Linked DNA regions of Homo sapiens: all the other regions are linked to region 3. The links come from fine-mapping of genetic effects on gene expression. A gene starts in region 3. Each other region holds a variant in brackets. All regions are shown on one strand. Distances are from middle to middle. Region 1 has its middle 10 kb from the start of RHOV. Region 2 overlaps DISP2 (dispatched RND transporter family member 2). Region 3 holds the start of SPINT1 (serine peptidase inhibitor, Kunitz type 1).

The links. PIP is the estimated chance that this variant, and not a neighbour inherited with it, causes the effect. A credible set is the group of variants that fine-mapping cannot tell apart.
Region 1: its variant is the best candidate, but not a certain one, in a credible set for the expression of SPINT1 in whole blood (TOPMed, PIP 0.52).
Region 2: its variant is the best candidate, but not a certain one, in a credible set for the expression of SPINT1 in monocytes (Fairfax 2014, PIP 0.58).

What each region holds. Positions count from the first base shown.
Region 1 is chr15:40,880,433-40,888,107 of GRCh38, reverse strand. No RefSeq gene overlaps it. Among named protein-coding and RNA genes, the nearest start is that of RHOV, 10 kb to the right of the region's middle. RefSeq lists an enhancer at 3,112-3,161. The variant TCACGAGGTCAGAA/A (reference allele first, on the strand shown) is at 3,842.
Region 2 is chr15:40,369,784-40,377,458 of GRCh38, reverse strand. It overlaps DISP2 (dispatched RND transporter family member 2), which reads right to left. Exons shown (of 8, transcript NM_033510.3): 8 at 1-7,675. The coding sequence ends at 7,141. It overlaps LOC124903472 (a long non-coding RNA gene), which reads left to right. Exons shown (of 4, transcript XR_007064597.1): 1 at 1-1,836; 2 at 5,365-5,620; 3 at 6,442-6,576. Among named protein-coding and RNA genes, the nearest start is that of KNSTRN, 9.1 kb to the left of the region's middle. The variant C/T (reference allele first, on the strand shown) is at 3,721.
Region 3 is chr15:40,839,965-40,847,639 of GRCh38, reverse strand. SPINT1 (serine peptidase inhibitor, Kunitz type 1) reads right to left here and starts at 3,592. Exons shown (of 11, transcript NM_003710.4): 1 at 3,454-3,592; 2 at 2,611-3,150. The coding sequence starts at 3,085. SPINT1-AS1 (SPINT1 antisense RNA 1) reads left to right here and starts at 3,116. Exons shown (of 2, transcript NR_146468.1): 1 at 3,116-3,461. RefSeq lists silencers at 2,911-3,150, 3,441-3,500, 3,581-3,810, 3,972-4,154 and an enhancer at 3,448-4,019.

The DNA.
Region 1 (7,675 bases), 40 kb before region 3:
GACTACAGGCACCCACCACCATGCCTGGCTAATTTTAGTATTTTTAGTAGAGACGGGGTCTCACCATGTTGGCCAGGCTGGTCTCCAACTCATGACCTCAGGTGATCTGCCCACCTCAGCCTCCCAAAGTGTTGGGATTATAGGTGTGAGCCACCGCACCCAGCCTCACATAACTTGTTTGTTTTTTTTTTTTTTGAGACGGAGTTTCACTCTTGTTGCCCAGGCTGGAGTGCAATGGCGCTATCTCGGCTCACCACAACCTCCGCCTCCCGGGTTCAAGTGATTCTTCTGCCTCAGCCTCCCGAGTAACTGGGATTACAGGCATGTGCCACCATGCCCAGCTAATTTTGTATTTTTAAAAGTAGAGACAGGGTTTCTCCATGTTGGTCAGGCTGGTCTCGAACTCCCGACCTCAGGTGATCTGCCTGCCTTGGCCTCCCAAAGTGCTGGGATTACAGGCATGAGCCACCTCATCTGGCCTACATAGCTTTTATTACAGTCTGTTGTTATAACTGTCCTATATTATTATTGTTGTTAATCTCACAGTGGGCCTAATTTATAAATTAAATTTTATCACAGGTTATGTATAGGGAAAAACAGTCGTCATGTCTCCTTGGACTGCTCTTGACTGGCAGTTTTTAAGTTTTTCAGATATTCCTTGTTTTTGATTACCTTGATAATTTTGAGTACTAGGCAAGTATTTTGTTGAATGCTCTCTGTTGGAATTCATTTAATTTTTTTTCATGTTTAGACTAGGGCTATTTATGGTTTGGGGAGATAAAGAACCATTATCAACACCTCTCTATTATATCGAGGATACACACTATCAACATGATTTATCATCATGACTGATCACCTGACCAAGATAGTGCTTGTCAGGATTCTCCACTACAGAGTTACTCTTTTCCCTCCTTTCCATGCTGTACTGTTTGGAAGGAAGTCACTACACACCTACACACCCTGCACTTAAGGGGTGGGAGTTTTTGCTTCCTTGAGGGTGAAGTATCTGCATAAATCCTTTGGAATTCTGGCATTCTGGCCAGACATGGTGGTGCACACCTGTAGTCCCAGCTACTCGGGAGGCTGAGCCTGAAGAATCGCTAAGCAGAGGTTGCAGTGAGCTGAGATTGTGCCACTGCACTCCAGCCTATGTGACAGAGTGAGCCTGCTGTCTCAAAAAAAAAAAAAAAAAAAAAAAAGACTTACTAAGAAAGAAAACCTAGCAGTCCTTTGCCCCATCCCCAGTTAAATTCCATCTGTTTTCATTGCTCAGAGCCCCAGTCACGCTGATCTAAGGATGTTTCCAAAATGCACCACACCCATTTGGACATTAGAGTGTCTGGTGTTGAGGATTTGCTCCCTCTAGAATGGCTTCCCTGATACTCCTCCCCTTGCCAGGACCAGGCCCCTGTCTTCTCTAATTCTCACCAGACAGGGAAAAGTGTCTCTAGCACACCACTTCCTGGCACAGGGCCTAGCACAGTTGTTGGCTTCCATTAAAATATGCTGAGGAAAGAAGACCCTTGGCCTGTTCAGAACAGCTCTCCACGCCCTTCTTTCTTCTCCTTCATGTTTGGCTCCCTTCTGCATGTGTCTAAACCTACCTGAATCGCCCCAATTCTCAAAAAGTATCCCCTCCCTGCTACTGTCATCCCTCTCTCACTGAGGGAGCTTCTAGCCAAGCTGCTCTCTTTCATCCCCCCACTGCCCTCAGGACTGCAGGCCCAGTGGCCTCACTTGTCTAGGTCAGAAATGAGAGCATCCTCAAACCAGGGGTCCTCGAACAGGGGTTCACACATCCTTAGGGGTATGAAAGGGTCTCCCAAGTGACAGAGGGTAGAAATTATTTTAAGGGAATCAGTTTCCAGATCCCCAACTGCATTGGGCTCTTTCCTAAAGGTGACCAGCAGGTCTAGGTACCTGTAAACAAGTGGCAGGTCCCCTTGCATTCCTACTGCCCGGCCCCTGCTTTAGGAGAAGAAGCTTATCACACACCACTCCATCACAGGCTCAGACCTGGAGCCCCAGGGCTTTGGGAGGCTGAGGCAGGAGGATCACTTAAGACCAGGAGTGGCCGGGCGCGGTGGCTCACACCTGTAATCCCAGCATCTTGGGAGGCCAAGGCGGGTGGATCACCTGAGGTCAGGAGTTTGAGACCAGCCTGGCCAACACGGTGAAACCCCGTCTCTACTAAAAATATAAAAATTATCTGGGCTTGGTGGCAGGCACCTGTATTCCCAACTATTCAGGAGGCTGAGGCAGGAGAATCGCTTGAAGCTGGGAGGCAGAGGTTGCAGTGAGCCGAGATTGCACCATTGCACTCCAGCCTGGGCGACAAGAGCGAGACTCTGTCTAAAAAAAAAACAAAAACAAAAACAGGGGTTCCAGACCAGCCTGGGCAACATAGTAAGACCCCATCTCTACCAAAAAAAAAAATACAAAAATGAGCCAGGCGTGGTGGCGCATGCCTGTGGTCTCAGCTACTCAGGAGGCTGAGGTGGGAGGATGGCTTGAGCCAAGGAGGTCAAGGCTGCAGTGAGCTGAGATCACACCACTGCACTCCAGCCTGGGTGACAGGGCGAAACCCCATCTCAAAAAAAGAAAAAAAAAAGATGAAATGTTTGAGTTGTCAGCATAGTTTATAAGCTTCTTTAGGGAGCATGGGAAATGGGGAGTCAATGCTTTGTGCCAGCACCACATCTGCCAGGAGCCCCACCCTCACCCCGCTGGTTTTTGCTCTCCCCACTACCACTCTCCATGCTGTTTCTCCAGTGGCCTCCTTGGCCAAGCTCTTAAAGCCCCTCTTGTTTTCAGATATGAAACCCAACTTAGCCAACACCTTTGGACAAGTCCCCTACCCCCTCTGAGCTACGCTTTTCTTTTCTCACCTGTAAATTGTGAAGGGGGAACTTAACCATCTCTAATAATTCTGTGATTCTCTAAAAGCTAAACCCAGCCAGGTGCAGTGGCTCACGCCTGTAATCTCAGCACTTTGGGAAGCCGAGGCGGGTGGATCACCTGAGGTCAGGAGTTCGAGACCAGCCTGACCAACATGGTGAAACTCTGTCTCTACTAAAAATACAAAAATTAGCCAGGCGTGGTGGTGCGCACCTATAATCCCAGCTACTCAGGAGGTGGAGGTTGCAGTGAGCCAAGGTTACGCCATTGCATTCCAGCCTGGGCAACAAGAGCAAAACTCCGTCTCAAAAAAAAAAAAATGCCAAACCCTTGTTGTGGTCCATTTAGAGATCTTTGAGGTCAGTGCTCAGGAAATAATGGTTTTCAGAGCACTGCCTCAGAGCTGGGTGCTATGCTTCTTACCTATCCTTTAGTAGTCTAGAAGATATTTCAAAAGATGTTGAAGCCAGGGAACCTCATCTGATTAATGTGAAATCTAATAGCCACCTCTCATCCTTCCAGCCCTGACAACCTTTTAGATCATAAGGCCTGACACACTGTAAGTACTTGGGAAGTGCCTGCTGAATGAATGCATGACTTGGCATGTTAACGTGCATCACATGCACACACTATATCACACGCGTATATATGAGTTAACTATATATTCATCCGTATGACCTATTGCAGAAACTGTTTTCAAACTTAAAAAAATAACTGAAACGGAGTCTTGCTATATTGCCCAGGCTAGTCTAGAACTCCTGGGTTCAAGCAATCCCCCTGTCTTGGCCTCCCAAAGTGTTGGAATTATAGGCATGAGCCACTGTGCACAGCCTGTTTTCAAGCTTTTAAAAAATGATGAGATTTAGTATTAAAAGCAACAGCAGGCCAGGCATGGTGGCTCACGCCTGTAATCCAAGCACTTTGGGAAGCTGAGGCGGGAGGA[TCACGAGGTCAGAA/A]GCTCGAAACCAGCCTGACCAACTTGGTGAAACCCCCATCTCTACTAAAAATACTAAAATTACCCAGGCATGGTAGAGCGTGTCTGTACTCCCAGCTACTCAGGAGGCTGAGGTAGGAGAATTGCTTGAACACTGGATGCAGAGGTTGCAGTGAGCCGAGACTCAAAAAAACAAATAAAATAAAATAAACAGCAACAATACAACAGCAACAAAATCCAAAATATTTTTTTAATTAAAAAATTTTTTTTTGAGATGGAGTCTTGCTCTGTCGCCCAGGCTAGAGTGCAGTGGCAAGATCTTGGCTCACTGCAACCTCCACCTCCTAGGTTCAAGTGATTCTCCTGCCTCAGCCTCCCAAGTAGCTGGGATTACAGGTACCCACCACCGTGCCCAGCTAATTTTTGTATTTTTAGTAAAGACGTGCTTTCACCATCTTGGTCTGGCTGGCCTCAAACTCCTGACCGTGTGATCCACCCGCCTCAGCTTCCCAAAGTGCTGGGATTACAGGTGTGAGCCACCACGCCTGGCCAATTTTTTTTTTTTTTTGAAATGGAGTCTGGCTCTTGTCGCCAAGGCTGGAGTGCAGTGGCGCGATCTCGGCTCACTGCAGCCTCTGCCTCCCAGGTTCAAGCAATTCTCCTGCCTCAGCCTCCCATGTAGTGGGGATTACAGGGACCCACCACTGCCCAACTAATTTTTGTATTTTTGGTAGCGACGGGGTTTCACCATGTTGGCCAGGCTGGTCTCAAACTCCTGACCTCAAGTGATCTGCCCACCTCAGCCTCCCAAAGTGCTGGGATTATACGCGTGAGCCACCGTGCCCAGCGCCAAAATATTAAAAACCAACAACACCAAGTGTTGTGAGGTTGTGGAGCAACTGGGGTGTCATAAAATGCTGGTGGGAATATAAAATGGTACAACTACTAACAGCCACTTAACATGCATATTTACCTCATGACCCAGCAATTCAATATCTGGGTATTTATCCAAGAGAAATGAAAATAATATGTCCACACAAAGATTTGTACATGAATGTTTATAGCAGCATTATTCATAATAGCTGCAACTGGAAACAAGTCAAATGTCAATCAAGAGAATAAACAGGCTGGGTGTGGTGGTGGCTCACACCCGTCATCCAAGCACTTTGGGAGGCCGAGGTGGGAGGATCACCTGAGTTCAGGAGTTTCAGACCAGCGTGGCCAACGTGGGGAAACCCCATCTTTACCAAAAATAGAAAAATTAGCCGGGCGTGGTGACAGGCTCCTGTAATCTCAACTACTTGGGAGGTTGAGGCAGGAGAATCACTTTAACCTGGGAGGAGGAGGTTGCAGTGAGCCAAGATCACACCACTGCACTCCAGCCTGGGCAACAAGAGCAAAACGACATTTCAAAAAAAAAAAAAAAAATAAACAAACTGTGGTATATCCATATAATGGAATATTACTCAGCAAAGAAAAAAAAAAGAACTGTCCGGGTGTGGTGGCATGTGCCTGTAGTCCCAGCTACTTGGGAGGCTGAGGCAGGAGGATTCTTGAGCCCAGGAGTTCAAGGCTGCAGTGGAGTCATGATCATGTCACTGCACTCCAGCCTGGCAACAGAGACCCCATCTCTAAAAAAAGAATAAGTAAAATAAAAATTAAAAAGCACAAAAAAACAAGCTACTCTTATACACAACAGCATGAGTGAATCTCAAAAACATACTGAGGTGCTGGATGCAGTGGGGCACGCCTGTAATCCCAGCTACTTAGGATACTGAGGCAGGAGGATCTCTTGAGGCCAGGAGTTTGAGTCCAGAGATGAGCGAGACACCCCTCATCTCTAAAAATAAATAAATAAATGGCCAGGCGCGGTGGCTAACGCTTGTAATCCCAGCACTTTGGGAGGCCGAGGTGGGCAGATCATGAGGTCAGGAGTTCGAGACCAGCCTGGCCAACACAGTGAAACCCCGTCTGTACTAAAAATACAAAAAGTAGCTGGGCGTGGTGGTGGGCACCTGTAATCCCAGCTACTCGGGAGGCTGAGGCAGGAGAATCTCTTGAACCCGAAGGTGGAGGTTGCAGCAAGCCGAGATTGTGCCACTGCACTCCAGCCTGGGCGACAGAGCTAGACTCCGTCTCAAAATAATAATAATAATAAATAAATAAATTAATTAATTAAATAGAGCCAGCGTGGTGGCTCACGCCTGTAATCCCAGCACTTTGGGAGGCCGAGGCAGGCAGATCACTTGAGCTCAGGAGGTCGAGACCAGCCTGGCCAACATGGTGAAACCGCCTCTCTACTAAAAATACAAAAATTAACCAGGAGTGGTGGTGCACACCTGTAATCCCAGTTATTCAGGAGGCTGAGGCAGGAGAATCAATTGAACTCAGGAGGCAGAGGTTGCAGGGAGCTGAGATTGCACCATTGCACTCCAGCGTGGGTGACAGAGCCAGACTCTCTCAAAAATAAAAATAAAATAAAAATAAGAGAAAATAAGGAAGTTAGTAGGGGAGTTTTTTAGGTAAAGGTTTTAGGTGGCAACTCTTGCAGGCATTTAAAAAGCTAGGGCTTGGGTGCAAGATCTGAGCGGAAAGAGAGGTTGGAAGGGGGCAGTAGCGGTGGGATCAGCTGGATGGCGAGGTGGAGAGAAATGAAGGGAGAAGCGGAGGCCAAGTCTGGGTGCGAGGGAGCAGGGAAGACAGGACAGAAGTCCAGGAGCCAGCCTGAGCCCAAGGGTGGTCTAGAGGGTGTGGGGACTGAGGAAATGGACTTGAAGGGTTGACCAGCAGCACCATGGGGCAAACTCAGCCCAGCTGGGTAAATTTGCCACAAACTCCCTCCAAGGACACAAGCACATGGAAATAGAGAAAAATCTGTGTTGCTGGGTGTCGTGGCTCACCCCTATAATCCCAGGACTTTGGGAGGCTGAGGCAGGAGGATTGCTTGAGCCCAGGAGTTTGAGAACAACCTGGGAAACATAGGGTGACCCAGTATCTACAAAAAAATTAAAAAGTTAGACAGGTGTGGTAGCATGCACCTGTGGTGCCACATACTGAGGAAGCTGAAGCAGGAGGATCACTTGAGCTTGGGAGGTCGAGGCTACAGTGAGCCCTGATCGCACAACTGTACTCCAGCCTGGGTGACACAGCAAGACTCTGTCTCCACAAAGAAAATAAATAAAATGCATAAAATAAAGAAAAAGGAAGAGAAAAACCTATGGTGGCCCAATTTCCACTGAAAGCTCAGAAAGTGGGTAGTCAAGTTATTGTATTATTATTATTGTATCATATAACTATATTATAATATATAATTATATATTAAGTTATATATAATATATAATTATTATCAGTATGTTGGTAAGCAAGTGTTAAATATAAAATTCTTTTTCTTGAATTCTGTTTTTATTTCAAAGCTTTCTGACCTGCCCATCTCAGTCTCTGAGCTCATCCTAAGCAGCAGGCCTGATTTTGGGGGTCTTGGACTGGAGTATGCAGAAGAAACAGAAAAAGACAATGAGAGTGCATTCACTCAAAAACAACCTCTCTCTGGATGGAGCCCTTGGAATAACTTTTCCCCACCACTGGTGTTCTTTCGTTTTTGTTTTTAATTTTTTTGAGATGGAGTCTCGCTCTGTCTCCTAGGCTGGAGTGCAGTGGCGTGATCTCAGCTCACTGTAACCTCCGCCTCCCAGGTTCAAGCAATTCTCCCTACATCAGCTGCCGGAGTAGCTGGGATTACAGGTGCATGCAACCATGCCCAGCTAATTTTTGTGTTTTTAGTAGAGACAGGGTTTCACCATGTTGGCCAGGCTGCTCTTGAACTCCTGACTTCAGGTGATCTGC
Region 2 (7,675 bases), 470 kb after region 3:
GTGTCTTGAAACTCATTATTTCATGTATTTACTGTTTGGTTGGTTGTTTCAGGCAGGAGGATAAACTTGGCCCCTGCTCCTCCATCTTGGCTGGAAAGGGAAGTTGTATCTGTACTTTCAGTCAAAAATTTTTTTTTTTTTTTTTGAGACTCTGTTGCCCAGGATGGAGTGCAGTGGCGCAATCTCGGCTCACTGCAAGCTCCGCCTCCCGGGTTCACGCCATTCGCCTGCCTCAGCCTCCTGAGTAGCTGGGACTACAGGTGCCCGCCACCACGCCCAGCTATTTTTTTGTATTTTTAGTAGAGATGAGGTTTCACCATGTTAGCCAGGATGGTCTCGATCTCCTGACCTCGTGATCTGCCCGCCTAGGCCTCCCAAAGTGTTGGGATTACAGGCATGAGCCACCACGCCCAGCCTTCAGTCTGTTTTTGTTCAAACTGTGGAGCTGCAGATTAAAGTTATTCCATTTTAGGGAAAATGTCCACCATACATCCTACTTGCAAAGACTATCCTCTCTGTCAAACCTGTGAGCCAATTCTGACCTTCTAACAGAAAAAGTCTGATTTTATTTTTCCATTCAAATCAATGTGGTTAATATGTATCCTGTGTCAACCATCTCACTTTCAGTTTAAATTCTTCTTTATTTCTTTTTTTAGAGTTAAGGTCTCGCTCTGTTGCCAGGCTGGAGTGCCATAATGTGATTATGGCTCACTGTAACCTCGAACTCCAGAGTTCAAGTGATCCTCTTGCTTCAGCCTCTGGAGTAGCTGGGTCTACAGGCGCATATCACCATGCCCAGCTAATTTTTATTTTTATTTTATTATTTATTTATTTATTTTGAGATGTAGTCTCGCTCTGTCACCCAGGCTGGAGTGCAATGGCATGATCTTGGCTCACTGCAACCTCTGCCTCCAGGGTTCAAGCGATTGTCCTTCCTCAGCCTCCTGAGTAGCTGGGACTACAGGCATGCTCCACCACGCCCGGCTAATTTTTGTATTTTTAGTAGAGACAGGGTTTTGCCATGTTGGCCAGGCTGGTGTTGAACTCCTGACCTCAGATGATCTACCTGCCTCGGCCTCCCAGAGTGCTGGGATTACAGGCGTGAGCCACCGCGCCCGGCCCATGCCCAGCTAATTTTTAAAATTATTTTTTGTAGATACGGGATCTTGCTATGTTGCCCAAGCTGGTCTCAAACTCCTGGCCTCAAGCCATCCTCCCACTTCAGCCTTTCAAAACACTGGGATTATAGGCATGAGCCACTGTGTCTCACCTGAAGTTGAATTATTTTTAAAAATTTTTATTATTTTTTCCTTTTTAATATATATTTATATATTTTACAATATAACATGTCAATGAATTTGAATTCTTAAATGAAGAAGGCACAGAACTGAGCCACAGGGCTGCCCCTGTGAACTTTCTCAAAGAAGCTCTCCAGGCTTTGCTCTTTCAAGGACTTCCTCAAGCAGAGCATTCTCAAGTGGCCCTTTTATTTGTTTTTTACAGCGCAGAGCAAGGAGCCAGAGTAGGATTCAGAATGAGGGAGGGGAGGCAACTGGGAAAGTGGAAGTTGGGAAGGACAGCTGTCAGGCCTGTGGCTTCTTAGGCCCACCAATATAAGGAGGGGAACATATGGAGAAGGCGGCTCTGGAAACTGATTACTTTAAAACTATCTGTGTCCACCTACCTTCTAGAAAGTCTTCATGTCCTTGTAGGGGAGTGCAAACCCTCGTGTGAAGGCCTCTGACACCAAGTGTGAGAAGCCATTGATGGAGCCATTACTGCTTCCTTCGTTGTAGCAGAAGGGATGGGGAGAGGAGCAGGCAGGAGCGGGGGTAGGTAAGTTGTGGCTTTGGTGCCTTGAAGGTGAGGAAATTTCTATTTGAAGGCTTCAGTTTTCTTCATGAAGAATTTTTTTTTTTTTTTTGTCCACTGAGGGGTGGGGGAAGGTGAGATATTTGAGGAAGGTGGAGAAAATATAAAAGAGTCAATACAAATAATCAAAACTAGTAGCTAGAATGAATACTAGCTAGGCAGAGCTGAGGGTCCAGTTAAGATAGGTGGTCATGAATTCAAATCTACATCAATCTGCTCAGCTGTGTGATTTTCTTTAGCAATATTAAAGCTCTTGTTTGTTTGATGGTTGTGGATTTGGTAAAATGCTGATCTTTCCCCTATATTGAGAAAAATGTGAGTAATCACAAAGAGGCCCGATAATAATTATGAGAAATTTATCAAGGCCCTTCCAGTGTTCCTCTGCATAAGGTGGCTTTGGATGGCCAGACATTTACATAGCACATAGTGGCTTTCTTTTGTTTCTCATATTCCTGGTGAATTGAACTACGATTTCTTCTCCTAAGCATAAATACCTGCAGACCTTAGTTACAGTCATCCCTGTGAACAAGGGTGTGGGTAGAAAGGGTGAGGAATGTCTGTCTTTCCTATCACCAGGTAAATGGGATCTTGATGCTTGGCATGGGGTCCCAAGAGCTTGCCATTACCCATGTGTATTATCAAAAAATGAGATACTGCCACCGTCAAAGAAAAGATCAGGGCCGGGTGTAGTGGCTCACACCTGTAATCCCAGCACTCTGGGAGGCCGAGGTGGGCGGATCACAAGGTCAGGAGATCGAAACCATCCTGGCTAACACAATGAAACCCCGTCTTTACTAAAAATACAAAAAATTTGCCAGGCGTGGTGGCAGGTGCCTGTAGTCCCAACTGCTCGGGAGGCTGGGGCAGGAGAATGGCGTGAACCTGGGAGGCAGAGCTTGCAGTGAGCCAAGATCGTGCCACTACACTCCAGCCTGGGCGACAGAGCAAGACTCCGTCTCAAAAAAAAAGAAAAGATCAGAAACTCTCTGGACGATAGGCAAAGGTTGTAAACCAATGTATCCTCTTTCTTAAAATCTGATTTAAAGCCTTCTTCCCTGTCCTGACATGCACTGGGAGAAGGACAGAATGAGTTGGAGGGGGCTAGGGAAATTTTGGCTTATAACTCTCTTGAGAAATGTCTTTTTAAAAATTGTCTCGGCCAGGCGCGGTGGCTCATGCCTGTAATCCCAGCACTCTGGGAGGCCGAGGCAGGCGGATCATGAGGTCAGGAGATCGAGACCATCCTGGCTAACACTAAAAATACTCTACTGTCTCTACTAAAAATACAAAAAATTAGTGCAGTGAGCCGAAATTGTGCCACTGCACTCCAGCCTGGGCGACAGAGCAAGACTCTGTCTCAAAAAAAAAAAAAAAAAATTGTCTCAAGCTGGAATATTGCCCGCATATCATGGTATGGGATATGCTATATATCAGTAAAATCTAAGATTCAGCCAATAAAATCAGTCTGTCTAACACTGTCACTCTAAAAGTCCCCAAATCACCACAGCCATGGAAGGATGGTTTTCCCATGGTAACAGACTATATCAAGTTTACATATATATATATATATATTTTTTTTTTTTAAGATGGAGTCTCGCTCTGTTGCCCAGGCTGGAGTGCAGTGGCGCAATCTCGGCTTACTGCAAGCTCTGCCTCCTGGGTTCACATCATTCTCCTGCCTCAGCCTCCCGAGTAGCTGGGACTACAGGCGCCCGCCACCACACCCGGCTAATTTTTGTATTTTTAGTAGAGACGGGGTTTCACCATGTTAGCCAGGATGGTTTCGATCTCCTGACCTCATGATCCACCTGCCTTGGCCTCCCAAAGTGCTGGGATTACAGGCGTGAG[C/T]CACCGTGCCCGACTTATTTATTTATTTATTTTTTGAGACGGTGTCTTGCTCTGTCATCCAGGCTGGAGTGCAGTGGCACGATCTCGGCTCACTTCAACCTCTGCATCCCGGGTTCAAATGATTTTCCTGCCTCAGCCTCCTGGGTAGCTAGGACTACAGGCATCCCCCACCACGCCCAACTAATTTTTGTATTTTTAGTAGAGGCGGGGTTTCACCATGTTGGCCAGGCTGGTCTCAAACTCCTAACGTCTAGTGATCCACCTGCCTCAGCCTCCCAAAGTGCTGGGATTACAGGCATGAGCCATCATGTCCGGCCTCAAGTTATATTTTAATAGCATACAGGATACATACTCGTACTCAGAATGTGAGTTCAAGGATCAGTGGCACAAATAGGGGAAATGACCTCAAGTTCCAAATGTTAATGTAGTTCTATTAGAGTGTCTGAGTGGGGAGAAATCATTTCTTGAATTTTGCAGGGCAAGCATAAGTGCTTTGACTCATTTTTGTACGCCTCACAGCGTGCTTGTAAGCCATGTCTCCAGGGCCATACACTCATTGTAAGTGCCCCTAATAATAATAAAGCAAAGGATCTGCTGCAACTCAAAGGAAATAGGAAGTGCTTTAAGTTCCACATTCCAAAGTCAGGGCTAGAGAGGCAGGCTGGATTTCCTGCTGATGTGGATTGCCTGCTGTTGGTTTGGGCCATTCTAGGTATAAGGTAATGTTTTAGATTACTGCTGGGTTCTTCTGGGCCTGGCAACATAAAGAACAAATCTAATCAATGCATCAGCTGCTATGGCTCATTCACCTTCCTGAAGTGTTGTGTGGCCACAGCCTGCAAGAATATGACCTGGAAATCCCCAGGTAGGGCCCTCGGGTGTGCTCAGATCCCTCATGCCCACCCATCCACCCCTCTGCATTCTAACATTTCAGTGGTTATGTTCAGGCAAAGTGTCTTCTGCTCATGCTTGGGAGGAAGAGTTCCCTTAACCTCCCTGTGGCTCATTGTCCCTGAGGATACCAGGGCTCTCTCAGCCTGGCTGCATGATGACAGAGGGACACCATTATCAGAGAAACCAGGGCTGATGAGCAGCTCTAGGTCAGAGAGGCCGAATGCTACCTGGACATGAAGAGAGAGGTCCCAGCAGACCCCCTGGGGACAGGTTCAAATTAGGTTCCAGCTTCCCCTTCCTGGTGTCAGGAGTTACTCATCTTGATTTACTTATCTTGCAAAGGAGCCAAGGTATCCTGCCGTACCTGCCTATTGCCTTCTGTCTCTTCCACAACTCCCATGTCTCTTTTCGGTTTCTGCTCCACTTCTCATGGGCTACTTGGAGTAGGAAGTAGGTCTCAATAATAAAAAACTAAATAAAACAAAAACATCATCTGATTTGCCTCCAGCTCTGCCACAGACTATTTGGCCCTAGAACAATCCCTTCCCTTTCCTGATACTCCTCTGTAAAATAGCCTGGATCAGTAGCTTTCATATTACATTCTGTGAAGCTGCCAGGAGCCGGAGGGGTTCCCCAGATACCCGGAGAGGCTGCAGTGGAAAGACAGGCTAAGCTGACTCCACCCCCAACACCCAGCGCCCACCAGAGTAGCTGCCTTTTACCTGTTTTATATATTGTTTTTCCACACAGAGCTTCTTTGAAGAAAGAGTCCTGAGGCTACAAAATTTGAAAACTGCTGGAATAAACGATCGCCAAGGCCCCTTCCAGTCTGAGACGCTTGGTCTTCTGAAGCCCAGCTCAAGTTTTTCCTCCTCCAGAAAGCCTTTCTTGTTACCCAGTCCTGGGTACTTGAGCTCCAACAATAATGATGATGGCAGGCATATGGTGCCGTCCGTGAGCCATCCGATGCCTGCATGTGTGCATAAGCTGTCTCCCCAGCTAGAAGGTGAGCTCTTTGAGGGTGGTGTTCAATTTTTCTTCCACACCTCTGTCCCCTTGTAATACCATATGCAAAGTAGGTGTTCAATAAACATGTTGATGCCACCTGGTGTCATGAGCTCTCACATGGGATAAAACTTCCCTACCAGGAAGTTTGGGAAGGAGGAACCAGCCTTTGGTCTGCTTAACGCTCCACAGAGAGACTTGTCCTTAAAAAGCTGGGGACCCTAACCTGGGAAGCAGCTTCAGACTCATACACTTCCCAAAGGGCAGGTCTGAGTTCCTGCCTTGATTGGATTTGGCTTCACCTCTTCTGCCCCTCAGTACCTCTTCTGGTGGGGCCTCTTATACACTGTGGCTGTAGAAGAGGCACGGTCCTGAAGCCTGGGAATCAGGTCAGCTAGGACGCCCCAGGGCCAGCAGACATCTCAGCCAGATTCCAGAGGGAGGCACGGGGGAGATGGAGAGGAACTCCTGGGTTTTTTTGGAATACAGCTCTCTCAGGAAGTGGAGGCCCAAAGAGGGTGGCTGGATTCAGTCAGAGACACCAGAGAAAGCAGATTGGAGGAGGGTGCTAGCGGTGAAAGAAGGCAGGTAGCCAAAGGGAAACTGGAGGTTGTAGTGGTGGAATGAAACCGCTCTGCCATTTAGTGGCTAAGTGACCCTGAGGTCAGTTCATCTTACTTAGTCTCAATGTCTTTACCTATAAATTGGGTGTCAAAAGAACCTGACCAATGTCAGGCTACCCTGTAGTGAAGTAGTGAGATAGATTCCAAGGAGACTAAAATGTGCAGAGATGGAAAGGATTATTACTGTTTATTAACACAGGAAAGCACAGGAGCCTGCTTCCAAAGAGGGACTGTCCCGTAATTGAGAGATGCTCCAAGGCTGACCATCCTCCTTCTCCTGCTGCACACCCAGCAGCCATCTATGGCTGGATTTGGAGAATTTCTGGTCAAACCGGTGAGTATGAGGAGAGCAGGGCAGTTGGGGAGAGAGGTCCCAGCCCAATTCTGCCCAGAGAAGCTCCCAAAAGAGAGGGAAGTGTCCTGATGAAGAGCCCATGAAAGGGGTGAGACCCAGGAGGCTGTGGAGATTGCTGCGGGCTCCTCTGGTCAGTAAGGAACCCTGACAAGATCCCTAGGATGGGGGTCCCTTAGTCTCACTGAAGTTCTTGTAACTTGGGATGGGGGCCAGGTCAGCCTCCTCTGATACCCGAAGCTACACATCTGGCCTTCCCCACTTCTAGAGGAGGGGTCTTAGATGGTGCTGTGGGAGCAGACAAGCCCTCAGCAGGTCGCAAGCAGGTCCCCTCCAAAACCCCTCCTGCTGGAATCCTCCAGATGTGAGGAGTAGGAGCAGACAGATCAAGGCTGGGACATCTGGCAGGGTTTAACATCCACAGCTGGAGGGTGAGACCTCTCCCTGTGGATCTGGAGAAATACCTTCGGGCTCCAGCCTATTGCTGCCCTTGCCTTGTCATCCATGACAGGGTTCCGCGCCCTGTCCAGCCTCCCCGGGTCCCCCTCAGCTGCTATAGCCTGACGTGTGAGTGCTGGGCCTGCGCAGCCAAACATCTGGCAGGTCTGGCTGGCTATTGGGCAGCACCACAGGGCTGCCATCCCCTGGCCCCCCTCGGCCCTTCCAGGACAAGCTGCTGTGATGGGAAGCGGGCAATGATGGGTCATACACTGTCTCCCTCAGCGCCAGCCACAGGGTGTCCCGCTTCCCATTGAGCTGGCCTCGCTCAAGGACTGGCTGCCCAGTGTCATCCAGGTCATCTGGGGACACACCCACGGAATCTGGTACACGGGCACTGGGCTCAGAGGTGCTTAGGCAGGTCTCATCAGAGACGCTGAGCCCCTCCAGGGTGCTGGCTGAGGAACAGAAGCCATCAGGAGGATCTGCAGCCTTGGCCTTAGGAGAGTGGGCTGGGGCTTCTGGTGAGGCTGGCAGGGGCTCAGCCTCCTCCCCTTGGGAGTCCTGCCTGGCCCGGGTTTTGGGGCTGGGGCCAGCCTGCTTATAGGGGGAGGAGGTCTGCAGGGCAGGGCACTGGCTGAAG
Region 3 (7,675 bases):
CCTCCCCCAGTTAGTTACCAGGTCTCAGGACCTCAGGGAAGTGCAGACTCCGCCTCCTAAGCCACTCCTTCATAGGACTGGGGAGGAGGAGAGGTGGGGGAAGAGAAGGGGAGAAGAGGAAGTGCAAGCTGCTCCGCCTCCAGCTGCAGGAATCTGTACTGGCCTGGCCTGGCCACAGGCAGAAGGAGGAACAAACAAACCCATTCTGGGGAGCATTTATCTATGCAATAGGAGAATCAAAGGTTTGGAAGCTCTCAGTGCCCGTGACCCACGTCACCCAACCCACCTCATCCACCCTAGCCCTTAATGGCTCTACCCTGTCATTACCCACCTCCAACCTCTCTAACTGGACCCAGGTGAGAATAAACCCCTTGACACACACACAGCTTTTTCCTCTTCCCAAAGCACTGCAGCACTCTAAGAATGGCCTAGAATGGCCTGGAGCTCATACTAAGTCCAAGCCCTACCTGCCTCCCTCAATGTCCCAGGAAATCCCCACTCCACCCTCTCTTGTGGCAAACAGGCAGGTCCTGGGGGTTTCCAGATGAGGATGGCTGGTCTCAAGACCATGGGGCCATAGTCCAGCTAAGCTCCCTGACCAGACTCCAGAATTTCACACTCTGGCTCTGGAGAGGGACTCCCATGGGGCCTCTGTGGAGCAGGAAGGGCATGAGCAACTCAGGTCAGTAAGAGTCATCACCACCTACACTTTCTGCTACTTCCTTGTGGAACAGGCTGCAGCCCTGGTTCAGTGGGACTTGGTGGCCCAGACTGGCCCTCAGATATGTCCCCCTCCCATCCACAGGAATCCCCATCTCGCCTCTCCTCAGAGACCCAGGAGAGCTACTGGAAGGATAGGGAGGAAAGAGGACCCTCCTTAGCCTGGCAGAGAGACTAGCCCAGGAAAAGTCTGCGGAGGAAAGCCCTTTCTCCACTTTCCAGAACGGAGACCACCCCCAGATGTGGCCCCAGCCCAGTTCTGGCCCCCAAACTCCCCAATCCCCGGTTCTGTTATCCACTGGGCTATTTTGGGTCAGAATGCTAGGTTTTTACCAGAGAGATGGTCTTGTGTGAAAAACAGCACAGGACTTTTTTTGGAGGTCTCCCCTGGGGTGAATCTCAGGCCTACCATTTATGGGCAGTGTTACCCTGGGCAAATTCTTTAACATGGGAGTCTTAGTTTCCTAATCTAAAAAGTGGGATGACTGCTAGTAGCACCCTTTTTGGAAGTTGTTGTGATGAGGCCTGAGTGAGAGGATGTGTGGCACAGCAATCAGTAAGCTGTAAAGTGCTCACAGAGGTTATGAGAGGTGACCTACCCCTGCCCTGGAGCCCCACCTGGCCAGAACAGCAGGTAGAGAGAAAGGGGGAACCAAGGCTCTGGACTGGCCCTGATCCCAGCAGACAGTTCAGTCCGGGGAAGAAAGAGGAGGAGCCCTGGCCTCCGCTTTGCCTTTATCTATGGAAGTAAACAAGGTTTGGCTACCAGATTCTAAGCAGGGAGAGCCCTGTCTGGCTCATGCGCATGCACACACACCTGCCTGGACAGCTGACATCCCTTCCCTACTAGGTATACATACCAACAGGCTGACTCACCCCACAACCCTCCTCATCCCCCACCCCAGAGCCTCTAGGCTTCTGTGCCTACAACATCACTTCTCTCCCTTTGGATCAACCGCAGACTGGGCTTGTTTTCTAGTCTCGGATCTGGCAGTCTTCCTGGACCACCAAAAGGCCAATGCATTCCTAGGGGGTAGAGAGATGCTAAGCAGTCCCAAGTCCAGCCAGTGGAGGAGACTATGGCCAGGCTCACCTGACAGGGCATCGGTGTGCCCAGACCAGTGCTTGGCCAAGGTGCCTTTCTAGTCACCAGACCATCCAGACAGCTCACTCCTTCAATCAGCCTATCAGTGCCAGAGGTCAGGAGTCCTGGGGACTTCCTCTCCCCTCCAGTACACACAGCCCAGAGCCAAAGGCCTCCCTGTGAGCACCAGCCCATCACCTCTGAACATCCTGAGTTCAGGAGCCAGAGCCTGGGCCCTGCCCTCCCTACTCATGTCCCCTTTCATTTGTTTACTGTTTGTACTGCCTACTACCGATGTGAAGGCGATCTGGCTGTGACATCTGTCACCCCATTGATCACCAGGCTTGATTCGGCTGTACTGCCTACTTCTAAGGAGGGCTTCAGGTAGAAATAATCCCAGCACTTTGGGAGGCCAAGGTGGGTGGATCACCTGAGTTCAGAAGTTCAAGACCAGCCTGGCCAACATAGTGAAACCCCGTCTGTACCAAAAAAAAAAAAAAAAAAAAAAAAAAAAAAATTAGCCGGGTCTGGTAGCGGGTGCCTGTAGTTCCAGCTACTCCGGAGGCTGAGACAGAAGAATCACTTGAACGTGGAAGACGGAGGTTGCAGTGAGCAACCAGAGATTGCGCCATTGCACTCCAGCCTGGGCGACAAGAGCGAGACTCCGTCGCAAAAAAAAAGAAAGAAAAAGAAAAAAAAAAGTGAACTCTCCTTAACTCCTCTCTGATGTTCGTCTCCCCTAGGACCCCATAACCAGTCCCTTTTTTGAGTCTCTCCAAACCCATCCATCTTGGCACCCTCCTCACCTCCAAAGCCCTGGGTCCGCAGCTGGCGGTAGGAGCGGTACACTTCCCTCGTGAGGTAGTTGATGAAGCCCTCCCTGGGCGCGAACTTGCACACGAAGTTCTGCTCGTAGAGGCAGTTGATGAGGAAGCAGGCGGCGATGGCGTCCTCCCCGCGGTCGGGCTGCAGCTCCACTAGCGCCAAGTTGCAGTTCTGGGTGGTGCAGCAGGCGCGCACGCAGTCCCAGCCCCGGCGCACGGTGGGGGACTCCAGGAAGGTAGCTCCGTTGCTGACCGAGGCGTTGGTGTCCAGCACGAAGCCAGGCACCCCGGCGGTAAAGCTGTTCAGGCAGTCGGCTCCCGCGGGCAGCCCAGGGGGCGCGGGCGGTGGCCCGGCCTGGGTGCCCTGGAGGCCGAGCGTGCACAGAAGCCACAAGGCGACGGCAGGGATGCCGGCCGGGGCGAGGCGGGCGCGGGCCATCGTCCTCGCAGGGGCCATCGCCTTCCTCCCCAGGGGGGTCACCTTCAGAGCGCGGGCCTCTGGGTTCCGAGGGTGCTGGTGACCTGAGAAGAAGGGAGGGGACAGAGGAGGAGACACACCTGATCAGCCCGGGAGACTTTGGAGGAGGCGGGCCGGCCGGGAGGAAGTGGCGGGGAGGAGGGACCGGAGCACCCCAGGATCGAAGAGGGCGCACGGGCCCGGCCCTCCCACGCGCCCTCCAGGGACCCGGCAGCCAGACAGACGGACAGGCGGACCGCTAGGGAGCTCAAGTACCCGGACACACGCACGAGCGCAGAACAAAGGGCCGGACATGCTCCAGCCCGCTCCGCCTGCGCCTCGGCCTTGCGCGCGGGGGCCCGGGTTACCTGCGCAGGTGAGTTGGGTGGGGCCGGGTCCGCCGAGGTTCCGGTCCCAGCTTCCTGCGCGGCTCGGGTCGCGGCTTCCGACCCGGTGCTCGGAGAGCTGGGGCTCGGCCGCCTTCTCCCCCTGGTTTCTGGTGAAACTGAGTCAGCGCCGTCGGGGCGGGGCCGACATTCACCCTTGCGCTGCCGGCCCCGCCCACGCCCGGTGCGCTGCGGCCGCCTCTAGCGCGGAGCTCCAGGCCCGGCCCGCCCCGCGGCCCCGCAGCCCCGGTGCCTCCCCGGCAGCCAGCTCCCCGGAGGGGCTCTCGGGCTCCACCCAGTCCAGCCTCGCGAGGGAGCCCCGCGCCCGAAGCGCATACCCAGCCGGGAGGGGATGCGGCCGGGACGCGAGGGTCCGGCCTCTGGGGCGGCGGCCTCCAGTCTTCCTTTCCGGCCGGGGCCTGCTTTCCCAGCCCCAGACCTGAGGCCCGATGCAAATGATCTTTCCGGCCCTCAGGAAATCATTTCCATTTCGTGGCGGGAAGGTAACCCAAAAGTTGCGTGGCTGCACCTGTGATAACAGGGATCCGGGATGTCTGCCTCACTGTCAGCTCCGGGAAGCCCTCCCTGCTGTCAGGGTGAGAAACGGAGGCGATTCCCCGCGTCCAGGCTCCCCTGCGTGCTCCACGGGGCTTCCCTGTTGTTCGAGGCCCCTCCTCATCTTGTATGTACAGTTCGGTCCATTCCCTGCTATGGCTCATTGGACTGTTGCCCCCTTCCCTGGAGCCCAGGCTTCCTCTCTTTCACAAAGGGGACGCTGCTGGCTACTTTCTTCCAGGGAAATGTCATCCTTGGAAGCCTGGAGGTTCCAGTTCACCAAGTAGCTGAGTTAATGCCCTTCACGAAACAGTGGACTCCTTGAAGCCAAGCTCATTGCTCCTCCTGAGTAAAAAACTCTTAAGAGACCATTCTCTACGGCAAGGGTCTGAACAGGTGAAAGACAGATGAAGGCAGGGCTGGAGGAAGGAATCACATAGCATGCTCTCTTAAAATACAGATTCCAAACCTTTTCCTGATGGCTTAACAACCCCCAAACCAATGGGAACATTCTTCCCAGTTTCTCATCCAGAGCAGCTTTGCCTAGCAGATCCTGTGGCCAACCCTTGGATTTTGCTGAACTGCAACATCCTCCAGCTGCTCACATGATGCGTGTTGGGGTGGGAATCTGGGGCCTGTCTCCCCTTCTCTGGATGTTTAGGGTTTATCCACAGACCCTGGCACACTGGTGGATATACAACAATGGTGGTATGCTGGGAATGAAGAAAATGATTGTGCAGTCACTGGGAAGAAAGGGTTTTGTTGTGATTTGATTTCCCCTTATGGCTAACACATTCAAGAATCTTTATTTATTTATTTATTTATTTTTTTTTTTTTTTTTTTGAGACGGAGTCTTGCTCTGTCACCCAGGCTGGAGTGCAATGGCACGATCTCGGCTCACTGCAACCTCTGCCTTCCAGATTCAGGAAATTCTGCCTCAGCCTCCCAAGTAGCTGGGCTTACAGGTGGGCACCACCACGCCGAGCTAATTTTTGTATTTTTAGTAGAAACGAGGTTTCACCTTTTTGGCCAGGCTGGTCTTGAACTCCTGACCTCAGGTGATCCACCCACCTCGGCCTCCCAAAGTGCTAGGATTATAGGCGTGAGCCACTGTGCCTGACCTCAAGAATCTTAATACAGGAAAATATTACCTTATGGTAATATTACATCACCATAAATTTATCATTACATCCATTATACACACCATTATAAAAACCAACATGAATTCAGCACTGACAATGCCCAAACTCTGTTCCTAAGCACTGCCCACATATTACCCTATACTCAAAACAAACCTAGGGAGGTAGTATTTTTAGCCCCATTTTACAAATGAGCAAACAGGCTCAGACAGGTAAACTGACTTGTCAGGTCATTCAGCATTGAAGCGGCAGAGTAGGGATTGGAGCCCAGGCAGGCCAATTCCATGGCTTCAGTGCTTAAACCCTGGGCTTTATGGCCTTTGCAATTCTGACTTCATCTGGAAGTTCTGCCCTCACCTCAGATTCAACTTGCTTAAACCCATAACTCACTTTCAAGTGGTGAGCACCCACCATTTGTTGAGATGCCCACTGTGTTCCCTCCAGGCACTTGACATAGGATTGCTAATGCTCAGGACAACTCTAAAAATTGCTTCCACTTTGCAGAAAGGTTCACTGACTCCATCAAGGTCAGGTAGTGAACGAAGAGTGGTGACAGGTTGTAGAGAAGTTGAACTTGTGAGCTTCAGACTCAGACTACTGGATTTAGCTCTTGCATCTGCCACTTACTATTCGTGTGGCCTTGTGCAAGTTATTTGATCTCTCTGCCTTAGTCTCCTTGAATGGGAAGTGGGGCTTCATAAGGTTTTTTATGAGGATTAATTGAGTTAATGCAGACAAAGCATTTGACACAAAGAGTTCTCAATAAATGTTACTTGAAACGACAACAACAACAACAACAAAAACACATGGTGGTGAGGATGCAGAGAAAAGGGAACGCTTATACATTGTTGGTGGGAATGTAAATCAGTTCAGCCACTGTGGAAAGCAGCTTGGAGATTTCTCAAAAACTTAGAACTACCATTCAACTCAGCAATCCTATTACTGGGTATATACCCAAAGGAAAATATATTGTTTTTCCAAAAAGACACATGCACTTGTACGTTCATCACAGCACTATTCACAATAGCAAAGACATGGAATCAACCTAGATGCCCATCAATGATGGATTGCATAAAGATAATGTACTTCATACGTACCATGGAATACTATGCAGCCATAAAATTAACAAAATCATGTCCTTTCCAGCAATACGAATGCAGCTGGAGGCCATTATCCTAAGCAAATTAAGGCAGGAACAGAAAACCAAATACCACATATTCTCACTTATAAATGGGAGCTAAGCATTGAGTACACATGGACATAATGATGGAACAATAGACACTGAGGACTACCAGAAGAGAGAAGGAGGGAGGGGAGCGTGGGGAGCGTGGGCTGAAAAACAACCTTTTAGGTAATATGCTCACTACCTGGGTGACAGGCTCATCTGTACCCCAAACCCTATACCCATGTAACAAACCTGCATGTGTACCCACTGAATCTAAAATAAAAGTTGAGGCCAGGTGCAATGGCTCATGTCTGTAATCCAAGCACTATGGGAGGCTGAGGCAGGAGGATTGCTTGAGCCCAGGAGTTCAAGACCAGCCTGGGCAACATGGCAAGACCCCGTCTCTATAAAAAAAAATACAAAAAATTAGCCAGGCATAGTGGCGCATGCCTGTAGTACCAGCTACTCAGGAGGTTGAGGTGGGGGGATTGCTTGAGCCAGGGAGGTCAAGGTGGCAGTGAGCTATGATCATGCCACTGCACTCCAGCATGGGTGAAAGAACTAGACCCTGTCTCAAAAATAAGTAAACAAAATAAAAGTCGAAATGATTCTTTTAAAAAAGTGACAGAGCCAGGATTGTATCTGAAGTCTTTTTGACATTAAAAGCCATACTTTCCATACTACCTTATGCTGCTTCTTACATACTAATAAGAAAAACTACATGTGAAGAGAAGAAAGACTATAAGGTATGCCATCAAAGTAGGGAAAGTGATGGTATTTGAATGGTGAGACTGTAGGATAACATTTCTTCTTTCTAGTTTTAAAAATATTTTCCAAGATCCCTTCAGTGAACATGGGATGCTTCCATAATGAAGAGAGAGACACACCGTGATGACCTCCACATACCATATTTGATGACAGTCTTCCTTGGTAATCACTCACATCCATCTCTTGTCTGTTCCCACTGCTGCCCTTAATCTAGGCTCTGTGCCAGCTTCCTGATGGAACTCCAGGCCACCCTGCACACTGCCATGTGGTTCCCTCCTCCAGCCCTGCCTTCATCTGTCCCTCACCTGTTCAGACCCTCAGTCATCCCCAAGAACTTCTCTGGCAGAGTGTACAGAGCCAACTGTTCCCTGGACCGACTCATGAAGTTCAGTATTTGCTTAGGCAGAGAGTGTCAGAGCTGTCAGAGGAGAGTCAGCTAAAACCCTTCCCCTGGCTGGGCACCGTGGCTTACGCTTGTAGTCCCAACACTTTGGGAGGCCAAGGCAAGAGGATTGCTTGAGGTCAGGAGTTCGAGACCAGCCTGGGCAACATAGTGTCTGAAAAAATAAATTTTAAA